Linked DNA regions of Homo sapiens: region 2 is linked to region 1. Evidence: fine-mapped expression QTL. A gene starts in region 1. The other region holds a variant in brackets. All regions are shown on one strand. Distances are between the middles of the regions.

The links. PIP is the estimated chance that this variant, and not a neighbour inherited with it, causes the effect.
Region 2: its variant is the best candidate, but not a certain one, in a credible set for the expression of USP35 in whole blood (TOPMed, PIP 0.80).

Annotation. Positions count from the first base shown.
Region 1 is chr11:78,185,884-78,191,395 of GRCh38, reverse strand. It overlaps USP35 (ubiquitin specific peptidase 35), which reads right to left and starts at 2,477. Exons shown (of 11, transcript NM_020798.4): 1 at 2,239-2,477. It overlaps KCTD21 (potassium channel tetramerization domain containing 21), which reads left to right and starts at 2,770. Exons shown (of 2, transcript NM_001029859.3): 1 at 2,770-2,823. RefSeq lists silencers at 2,124-2,283, 2,714-3,053.
Region 2 is chr11:78,207,950-78,212,949 of GRCh38, reverse strand. USP35 (ubiquitin specific peptidase 35) reads right to left here. Exons shown (of 11, transcript NM_020798.4): 9 at 3,987-4,093; 10 at 2,206-3,502. Among named protein-coding and RNA genes, the nearest start is that of USP35, 22 kb to the right of the region's middle. RefSeq lists an enhancer at 1,965-2,591. The variant G/A (reference allele first, on the strand shown) is at 2,749.

The DNA of each region.
Region 1 (5,512 bases):
CCTACTGGCATGACAGCCTGAGGGGCGTCCCAGCAACACCAGCACACTCCAAGGCACGCAGTGAGCACTCAGGAAAATCCCAATCCCTCTGCCAAAAGGCCCAGATCCTTTCACCTGTTCCTCTCGGATGACCCTCAACATTTCTGCCGAGTGTTGACTGATCTCTGCTCCTGCACAGTTGAGCCTGACTTATCTCCATCACCCCAAAGCACCCTGTGTGTGTGTGTGTATGTGTGTGTACACAACTCCTATGCTCAGCCCCACTGCCACGCCCTGGGCCCCCGCTCAAGCTTCATCATCCCTCCTTGGTCTCTCCAGATGCAGCATCGTCAGATGGAGCTTATTACACGGTAAGCACCATTCCGTCCATGCCCCTGCTCAGAACTCTCAACACTCTCCAGCCCCTTGGACCCAGAATAAGGTCCAAACTCCTGAGCCGGACATGCAAGCCCTTTCTGTGACACTCAGCTGATGTGGGGCAGGGGTGGAGATGAACTCAAGCAACATTGTTCAGTGGAGACTCTGCAGACATTGGAGCAGGGGGCTTTTTCCTGACTGCTACTTTGCACAATGTCCCCTCTACTGAAAAAGGGCTTTTCCCTCTTCTCTCCTGGAAAATTCTGACTCACCCTTCAATGCCCAGCTCACATGCCCTCTCCTCTGGGAAGCCTTTCCTTTTCCCTCCACAATTCAAGTGTCTAAAGTTCTGGCCTCCAAGGCCCTCTTAGCTATTCTCATCCCTCTGCAGCATAACTGGAATCCATGTCTCTGTCTCCCACCAGGCTGGGACCTCCCTTGGCAGAGGTCCAATCCCCGTCTCTGAGCCCAGTGCCCAGTACAGAACCAAGGACTGAGGTGTCCGTGAAGGTGCGTCAAGCAACTCATGAGAGACATGTGACAGCAAGATGAGAGAAAACCAAAGATGTAACCACAAAAGTACCTTCCAGAAACTGGCCTAACCTTTGGTCCAGTCACCACCCCCTCCTTTGCCCAGGCCTGGTCTTGCATATCAAAAACCCTGAAAATCTTAAACATCAGTCAAGAAAGCCCCTACAGAGGTCACTGGACTGGACTGAGGCTTTAGCCATTCTAGAAATTGTTCAAACAACCAAAGCAAAAGAAAAAGCACAAAACAAAAACAAAACAAAACAAAACAAAAATCTGTTCCTGGTTAGCCTTCAGGTCAAAAGCTCACAGAATCTCCTAGGACCTGAGAAGAAGGCTTCATGGTGTTACTCAACCTCTCCCTGCTCCAGGTCAGAGCAGCCCCTCCCAGCCTCTGCTCAGCACCTAAGAGCTGAGGAGCACATTTCCTCCCCTCTCTGACCCTCGAAGCCAGCCTCCCTCCTTTGACTCCCCTGGGAGCCAGAGCTTCCTTGGGGGTACCAGGCTGCCCCTCCCGACACCAGGTGGTGCCCTCCATCTCTGGCCCCTCAGGTGTCTGAATGGCAGCATCTCTCTAGGTATTTTTTAACTGAACTTCTACCCAAGGCAACCCTGGGAAGAAGTGCTTCACCCTACTCCGGGAGGCCCATGTCTGGGCCACCAAACTGTCTCCTGGAAAGAAAAAGAAAAAAGGGTTTCACTGGTAAAAAGCAGCTGCTCTTCCTCAAAGGATAAGGAGGAGAGAGAAGGGAAGAAAGCAGGAGCAGCTATTCCTCCTCAGGAACCCACCACACACACCTATCCCTGCGGGGCCACCCCTCACAAACCTGTGAGGGCCGCACTCCACCCCAAGCTTTCTGGAAGGAAGGGCACCAAGCTGACACATCAGGGTCTCCGGTTTGCAAGGGCCAGGGCCGTAAGAGGGGGTTGGGGAGGGTATCCCAGGGCCCAGCACACTGAGAATAGGAAAAGCCCATTCCAAGCAATGGTGGCCTCGGGCCCCCCAGTTTGTGCCACCTCCCTCCCTCCAGTGCACCCGCGCCCAGCCCACGCTTGAGCTGGAGGGCCCCACGAAAAGCCAGCAAGCGAATGTACTAGGTACTGGGTGCGAATGCCCTCTTACCTGAAAGGGGAGGGAGCAGGATCACTTCGACATACAATTGATGAAGGGAGGGGATTAATGCCCAGAGAGGAATAGCTACTCGCCCAAGGTCACACAGTGAGGCCCAGGAGGCCCAGGATGCACCCAGATCTCCCGACTCCCAGCCCTGGGCTCGCAAGTCCAGGGTTCTCGAAAGGCCAGGGTGCAGACACCGCCCCCCAAAGACAGTCACACGCCCCCAACCCCCTTACCTCCCGGACCCCGGTGGGCCAGAGCCGGCTGCTGGGCGGGGCGCTCAGGCCGGGCAGGACGAGGCTGGGCCCGGCTAGGTCAGGGCTGGTCCTCTGCTCCCCCCAGGGTGGGGACGCCCTCAGCCAGGTCCCAGACGGAAGAGATGCTGCTTCCACTGCAAAATCCAGTCTTCCCACCCCGCCTGGCACAAGCCTCTATGTATCCAGGAAGCCCGACTCTGCGGCGCGGCCCCGGGGCTGCGGGATGAAGCATGGGGAGGGGCGAGGTGCGTGAAATGGGGCGGAGCCGGAGCGGGGGCCACCCCGCGAGCTGCCACTCTGACCGCGTCCCCTTTAAGGCCAGCCGGCCGGACACCGGCGGGGACGAGGCGGGGCGCAGAGCAACTCGCTGCAATGCCTCCTGGGAGATGGAGTTCGCTCTCGACGCGCCGAGCTGCGAGGAGCCCAGAGAGAACTACCAGTCCCGGAAGGCAGCGCACAGACCCCGGACCGCCACGCCCCTGGGCTGGGCTCCTACCCTCCGCCCCCCTCGCAAAGCTGCGCTGGCCGCTCGCGGAGGGAGAGGCTGCAGAGCGAGGGCAGGAGGTGGGTGCGGCACGGCCGGGGTCGCGGGGCTCGGGGACTACCGGCGAGGGTACGTGGGCCCACTGAGCACCTGTCTTACCATGAGACTAATCTATCCCAGCCTCGCCATTCCCATCTGTGAAATGGGGATGGCATCGCCTGTGGTGCGGGGGAGGGGGCGCGTTTCGGAGCGAGGTGAGCCGAAGTGGGCAGAGCTCTTAGAGGGGCGGGGCTGTTGGGAGAGCAAGGGCGGATGGTGATAGTCGGAAAAGCCCGGATAATGAGGGTCGGGACTGTGGGAGGAGTCCTTGGTGGGTGGGGCAAGGAGAGGCGGGATCTCTAGGTGGGGGTGGGGCACTTGTCAGGTCGGAGTGGGGGCTGTAGGGCTGGGGAGTGGGTGCGGAACAAGCCGATGAGGCCAGCCTGGGTGAGATTGGGGAAGGAAGGGCGGAGACACAGATGACAGGGAACTTGCCCCGCTCTGGAGAGCCCTGGGCCGGCCGCGCTGTGGCGGCGTGGGCAAAAGCCTGTGATGCATAGAACACCTCCCTTTACTGACTGGAAATAAAGAGTCCATCCCCGAGTTCAGTGCGGCACACCAGTGATCTCATTGACCTCCCACGCCCTGAAAAGTAGAGGCGTCACTATAGCGGTTGACAGGTGAGGAATGTGAGGCTCAGAAAAGCGAAGGGACTTGCCTAAAACCACTCAGGACTCCTTACTTCAAAGACCTTGCTTTTCTCCCTGCACTCGGGGAGGCAGAGGTTTAGCTTGGCGTGGGAGGCAGGAAAGAAAAGTTTTGATGCCCCGACCTTCGCAAATTGTCTGGCAGGACCAGTCCCCCCAACCCTTCCGAATGACAGCCTGTAAGGCAGCCCTCCTATAGTACTGTGAGGATGAAATGAGATGGATTTGAAAGCACGGTGTTTATAAATTACTGTTTGGAGGAGACATAGGAAGAGAGCGGTTTGAAATGGGGTGCTGGTGCCGGAGGAAAAGCACAAGGTGAAGCGTGAGAGTGAGCCGAGAAGGTGAAGGAAAGTTCTGGAAGGGGCTGGGGGATGGTAGTGGTTGTTGGAGGTCTACGCCAGATGAAAGAATACCTTGCCGTGCCAGATTCCGTGGTCTCCTTCTTCCAGCCCACCTTTCTCTCCTCCTGCCTTTTGCGCAGCTCATTCTGGGGTCCCTGTGTCTAGGAAGCACCTTTTCTCTCCTCCCTATGGGTTGTGATGGTAATAGAGCAGCCTTCGGATTTCTTAGAGATATGGACTGGGCAAGACAGAATTATAGACGCAGCTCTTTGATGTGGGGTGGTCAGGAAGAGGAGGTGAAGAAAGGGTAGTCGTCCTAGGGGCTTCAAGGCAAAGAGTCCTTTCTCCGGTGGGGTAAGGTGGGGAAGTCTCCCACTTACTGGAAAACACAGTACTCACTCTGAGCATTGTCTTTTTTGAAATTTACCCAGCCACGTGCTGTCCATTCCCTTACGCAGTGGAAACTCTCCTTGCATTTACTCCCAAGTAATCACCTCGGCCTTGTCACATCCCTTTAGATTCCAGATTGAAAATTGAACAGAGCATTTCAAAATTAAAAAGTTTTGAAAATCCAGGTGGGGAAAATGGATCTGACTAAACAGGAGAGAAATTTCTTCCTCTTCCCCTATTCTACGTGCTTCTGTGGATATAGAAAGGGGCACCCCCAGCCCCAGCAAGGGAGCCAGGCATCCATCTACTTAAGTAAAGTTGGCTGTGGTAAGGGGTTAGACTAAAATTCTCCGCAGATGCAGAGGAGAAGGAATGAATTCCAGCTGAGAGACCTGGCCGATGCATGGGATTTGTCTTCAAGGTCCAGGCAGAGGGGATGGCAGATGCCAAATTGCAGAAGTCGAAGAGGGCCCAGTATGGTTGGTCTGTAAAGTAGGTATATAATAGTATCTACTTAATCTGTGAGATTGAAAGAGATTAACATGTATAGAGTGCCTAGCACGGTAGTAACTGCTCAATAAACGTTAGCCATTATTATTGCCGTTGTAGTGTTTGTTGTTGTTATGATCATCATCATCTGCCCAGGAACGTGCCCAGGGCTGCACAGCTAGTAAGTGGCAGGGGATGATTCAAATGCAAACCCAGGTAATGCCGAATACCATGCATGGTCTGCCCCTACCCCACACAGCCTCTCCAGTTCTTTTCTTTTTTTTTTTTTTTTTTTTTTTTTTTTTTTTTTTTGAGACAGGGTCTTACTCTGTTGCCCAAGCTGGAGTGCAGTGGCGTGATCTCGGCTTGCTGCAGCCTGACCTCCCAGGCTCAAGCGATCCTCCTACCTCAGCCTGTGCAGCTGGGACTGCAAGCACGTGTTACCATGCCCAGCTAATTTTTTTTTTTCTCTATAGAAACGAGGTCTCATTATGTTGTCCAGGTGGTCTCAAACTCCTGAACTCAAGCGATCCTCCCACCTGGGCCTTCCAAGTGCTGGGATTACAGGCATGAGCCACTGAGCCTGGCCTGTCTCCAGTTCTTTCTGCCCATCCTTGACATTTCTGAGGCCCAGGAGTGGCCTCTCTTTGTCAACATTCACAGTGAGTCATGACAGGAGTTTCTTTCCTGCCGAGTTACAGAGATTCTGGGTTCATGATGAGGCAGGAAAAACAAGGCCTGAACAGCCATCTTCTTCCAGGCAGAATCACAGCACAGAAGATAGGCAGACCTGGCCGGGC
Region 2 (5,000 bases), 22 kb before region 1:
GGAGGCTCACGTGGGTAGTGGGACCCCCTCCCCCCACACCCGAAGCATCCTCCTCCCCCTCAGACTCAACTGGTCCCTGTACTCCTCCTTCAGCACACTTATTAACTGCATTAATGGGGTTTTCTAGATGATACAGAATCATGTCATTATCTCATCCCAGGAGCTTCTTAAGCTGTTAAGCAACTTCAGCAACTCTCAAGATGATACATACAAAAACCAATGTGCAAAAATTGCTAGCATTCCTATACACCAACAAGAAGCAGGGAGCCAAATCATGAACAAACTCCCATTCACAACTGCTACAAACAGAATAAAATACCTAGGAATACAGCTAACAAGGGAAGTGAAGGAGAGGACACAAATGGAAAAACATTCCATGCTCACAGATAGATAGGAAGACTCAATAGCATGAAAATGGCCATACTGCCCAATGTAATTAACAGATTCAATGCTATTCCCGTTAAACTACCATTCACATTCACAGAATTAGAAAAAACTATTTTAAAATTCATACGGAGCCAAAAAGTCCATATAGCCAAGACCATCCTAAGCAAAAAGAACAAAAGTGGAAGCCTAATGCCTACCTGACTTCAAACTATGCTGTTTTGCTTACTGTAGCCTTGTAGTATAGTACTGGTATAAAAACAGACACATAGACCAATGGAACAGAATAGAGAACTCACTCAGAAATAAGACTCCACACCTACAACCATCTTCAACAAACCTGACAAAAACAAGCAATGGGTAAAAGATTCCCTGTTTAATAAATGTTGCTGGAAGAACTGGCTAGCCATAGGCAGAATGTTGACATTCGACCCCCTCCTTATACCTTATACAAAAAATTCACTCGATGGATTAAAGACTTAAATGTAAAACCCAAAGGTATTAAACCCCTAGAAGAAAATCTAGGAAATACCATTCAGGACATAGGCATAGGCAAAGATTTAATGATGGAAACATCAAAAGCAATTGCAACAAAAGCAAACAATGACAAATGGGATCCACTTAAACTAAAGAGCTTATGCGGAGTACAAGGAACTATCATCAGAGTAGACACAACCTACAGAATGAAAAAAAATTTTTGCAAACTACCCATCTGACCTAAGTCCGATATCCAGAGTCTACAAGGAACTTAAATGTCCAAGAAAAAAACAACCCCATTAAAAAGTGGGCAAAGGACATGAACAGACACTTCTCAAAAGACATTCATTCATGTGGCCAACAAACGTACGAAAGAAAAATTCAACATCACTGACCATTAGAGAAATCAAAACCACAATGAGATACCATCTCACGCAAGCCAGAATGGTGATTATTAAAAAGTCAGGAAACAACATATGCTGGTGAGGTTGCAGAGAAATAGGAATACCTTTACACTGTTGGTGGGAGTGTAAATTAATTCAACCATCATGGAAGACAGTGTGGCAATTCCTCAAAGACCTAGAGGCAGAAATACCATTTGACCCAGCAATCCCATTACTGGCTATACACCCAAAGGAATATAAGTCATTCTATTATAAAGATACATGCACATGTATGTTCACTGCAGCACATTTCACAATAGCAAAGACATGGAATCAACCCAAATGCCCATCAATGATAGACTGGATAAAGAAAATGTGGCACATATACACCACAGAATACTATGCATCCATAAAAAGGAACGAGATCATGTCCTCTGCAGGGACATGGACGGAGCTGGAAGCCGTTATCCTCAGCAAATTAACGCAGGAACAGAAAACCAAATACCGCATGCTCTTACTCATAAGTGGGAGCTGAACAATGAGAATACATGGACACCTGGTGGGGGTGGGAGGGGACCAACACCCACTAGGGCCTGTTGGGGGGTGGCGGGGGAGGGCGAGCTTCAGGAAGAATAGCTAACAGATACAGGGTTTAATACTTAGGTGATGGGTTGATCTGTGCAGCAAACCACCATGGCACACGTTTAAGTAACAAATCTGCACATTCTACACATGTACCCTGGAACTTAAAAAATAAACTGCGTCATTCATTACTCAGTGTCTGTTACTTTGAAGTAAGGGGTTAGGTCTGTCTGGGCCACCAGTATATACCCAGCACTGAGCAACAGATGAATGGGATTTACAAAAAAGACTTAGAGGGGAAATGACTTATCTAAGCCAGTAGTGGGACTGGACTCCCTCCACCAAGAGATCAGATCAAAGGCCCCACGGCTCAGCTCACCTGTAGGTAAAGGATGTTGTCTTTGGAAATGGCTTCCATCAAGTCCTTGTGCAGGGTGGGCTCTGTCCGGACTCTAGAAGAGCCCAACTCAGCCTCGGGCCCCTCCCTGGGCCGCTGCCGGTAAAACAGCACATAGGCTGTGTCCTTAGGGAAGAAGGAGGTGACGTTGCTGACAGATTCGAAGGAAGAGAAGGACACCCGAGTGTCATTGAACAGGTACCACTGGTTCTCGGGCTCTGGCCTATCGGCAGTTCCCAGAGAAGCGGCAGGGCGGGCAGCGCCCTCACGGGCATAGCAGTAGTAGTGACCACTCTCCGAAGACACTCCAGAGTGCACCACCACACTGCAGAGGTCATAGGCCTGGCCACGGCCACCAGCCAGTGGCAGGCGGAGCAGCAGGGGGATGGAGACGTCATCCAGGATCTTGCGGCGCCGCATGGTGCGCAGGTCGAAAGAGAAGCGCAGCAGTGTGAGGATGAGGTAGCACGGCCCTTGGCTCAGCTCCACCACCTTCTCGGCATCCTGCAGGGAGGCACACGACTC[G/A]CAGTAGTAGCGGTTTTCTGCTGTCAGCTTCTCGGGGGACAGGAAGTAGTTAACCAGGTCCAGGACGGAGCGGGAGCCCTCAGAGCCACATGTCCGCTCCCCGGAGGGGATGGCAGCATCCGGGTGGGTCCCCGCTCCCAGGCTGTCTTCTTCCTTTTCCTGCTCAGCCTCCTTTTCTGTCTCCTTCTCCACCTTCTCTTCTTCCTCTTCCACCTCCTCCTCTTTCTCCCTCTCTCCTTCCCCTCTGGTGCTTTCCTCCTCCTCCCCCACTTCTTCCTTCTCCGTTCTCTCCTCCTTCCCTTCTTCCTCCCTCTCTATCCTTTCCTCCTGACTGCTCTGCCCACCAGCTTCCTTGGAGTCCAGGCCTTCGATGTACAGGCTGGTGGGGGGGGTGTCCTCTGTGATGCAGTGTTTCCTTTGCCTCCGAGGACCCACCCTGCCTGGCCCCTGTGCACTGGTTGGTGGGGGCAACTCCCGGGCTGTGATGTCTTCTGTGGGGCGCATCACAGAGCCCAGGCGGCGGCGGCGACAGCGCTCAGGAGGAGGGAAGGCGAGAGAGAGGTCCGTGAAGGCCTCCTCCCGGGAGGAGACGTTGAGGCAGCAGAGACAGCAGATCCGAGTCACTATCTTGCCTCCAAACATTTTTTCCACAGAGGTTGAACTTGGGGCCGGGGGCTCCTCGGGCGGAGAGGGCGAGCTGGACTGCTTGAGTTTCTGGCAGATCCTTGTGCCCGTTTTCTCCTCTTCGTGCAGCCTGGGGCAGAGAGCACAGAGTCACTACATGTACATGCGGGTCCCCTTCCGGGGCACTCAGCTTATCCATGCCCATTTACCTTCCCCAACAGCCACACATTGAGACGCACACAAACACACATGCACACACCAAACACCCACACATCCACGTACATGCTCACAACAGCACGCTTGCTACACTCACCCACACGCCCTACATAAAGACTTGCTGGAGCTATGTAATGTGCTCCCATGGCAGTGACAAAGATGCACGGCCCGGTGTGCAGACATACACAATGACCTCCCAGAGATCACTTCCACTCAGCATCTACCAAACCTCCCTCACACTCAGTCCCTGCCCTTCCAGCACACCCCTTCTCCACGCCCTCCACATGTTGGAGGCAGCACACTTATTCCCTGGACGCTGCAACACAGCTCAGAGGTACTGGGCTTGCCCCCAAGGACCCTCTAGACCTGGAGTCTTCGCGTAGCCCTGGCCCCCTTACCGATCCAGCAGGTACTTCAGATACTCCGAGCAGTCCTGCTGGGTGCCAGGGCTGAACCAGGGCGTCCAGGATGCGGAGAGGAAGTTCTCTGGGGAAATGGCAGGCCGCTAGGACAAGGCAGGCGAAAGGCATGGTCAGGAGCAGGAGGCCACTCACCAGCCAGCTCTGCACAGGTTAGGCCTGAGGGTCTACCTCATTCCCTCGGCCTCAAACTTCCTGGCCTCCTCCATGAGGTCCTCCCCGCTTTTCTATTGTCCCTGACCCAACCCAGCCCACATGTCCACGCCTCTGAGCAGGGCTGAGCAGGGCATTGGGCTCAGAGAAATGAACGAGGCTCTAGGAATCTTCTCTTCCTGGCACACCTCAAACATTCTCTCCCTGCCTCCACTCACTGCCATTCTCTCCCGTCAAGATGAGTCCCAGATACAGCGCTGCCTCTTCCATGTCATCTTCCCAACCCTCCCTCACTGACCTTTCCCTTCCCTCCATGAGCCAGGGAGGGATTACTCATTTCTGTGCCCCCACACAGAGCTTTGCATAATCCCTGGCCAAGGGCTTTAGGCTCCATGAGGGCAGAGATGGTGTTTGTTCTGTTCACCTCTGTACCCTCAACAGCTCTCAGGCTGCCTGGCCATGTGGGTACTCAAAAATAACAGCAGAATGAAGCAACATGCTGTGGTGTGACTGTGTCCTCCAAAAAGCATGTGTTGGAAACATAATCCCCAGTGCAGCAGTGTTAAGAGATGGGACCTTCAAGAGAGGATGAGGTCCTGAGCACTCTGCCCTCAGGAATGTATTATTTCCTTATCACAGGCCGTTTGCTTTCCCCAGCAGCCACAAATGGAGACAGGAGCAGGTTCCTGATAAAAGGGTGAGTTCATCCCGCTTTCCCTTCTCTCATGCATGCTCTCACACCCTGTGATGCCTTCTACCCACATTATAATGCAGCAAGAAGGCCGTCACCAGACACAGCCCCTCGATCTTGGGCCTCCCAGCTTCCAAAACTGAGAAATA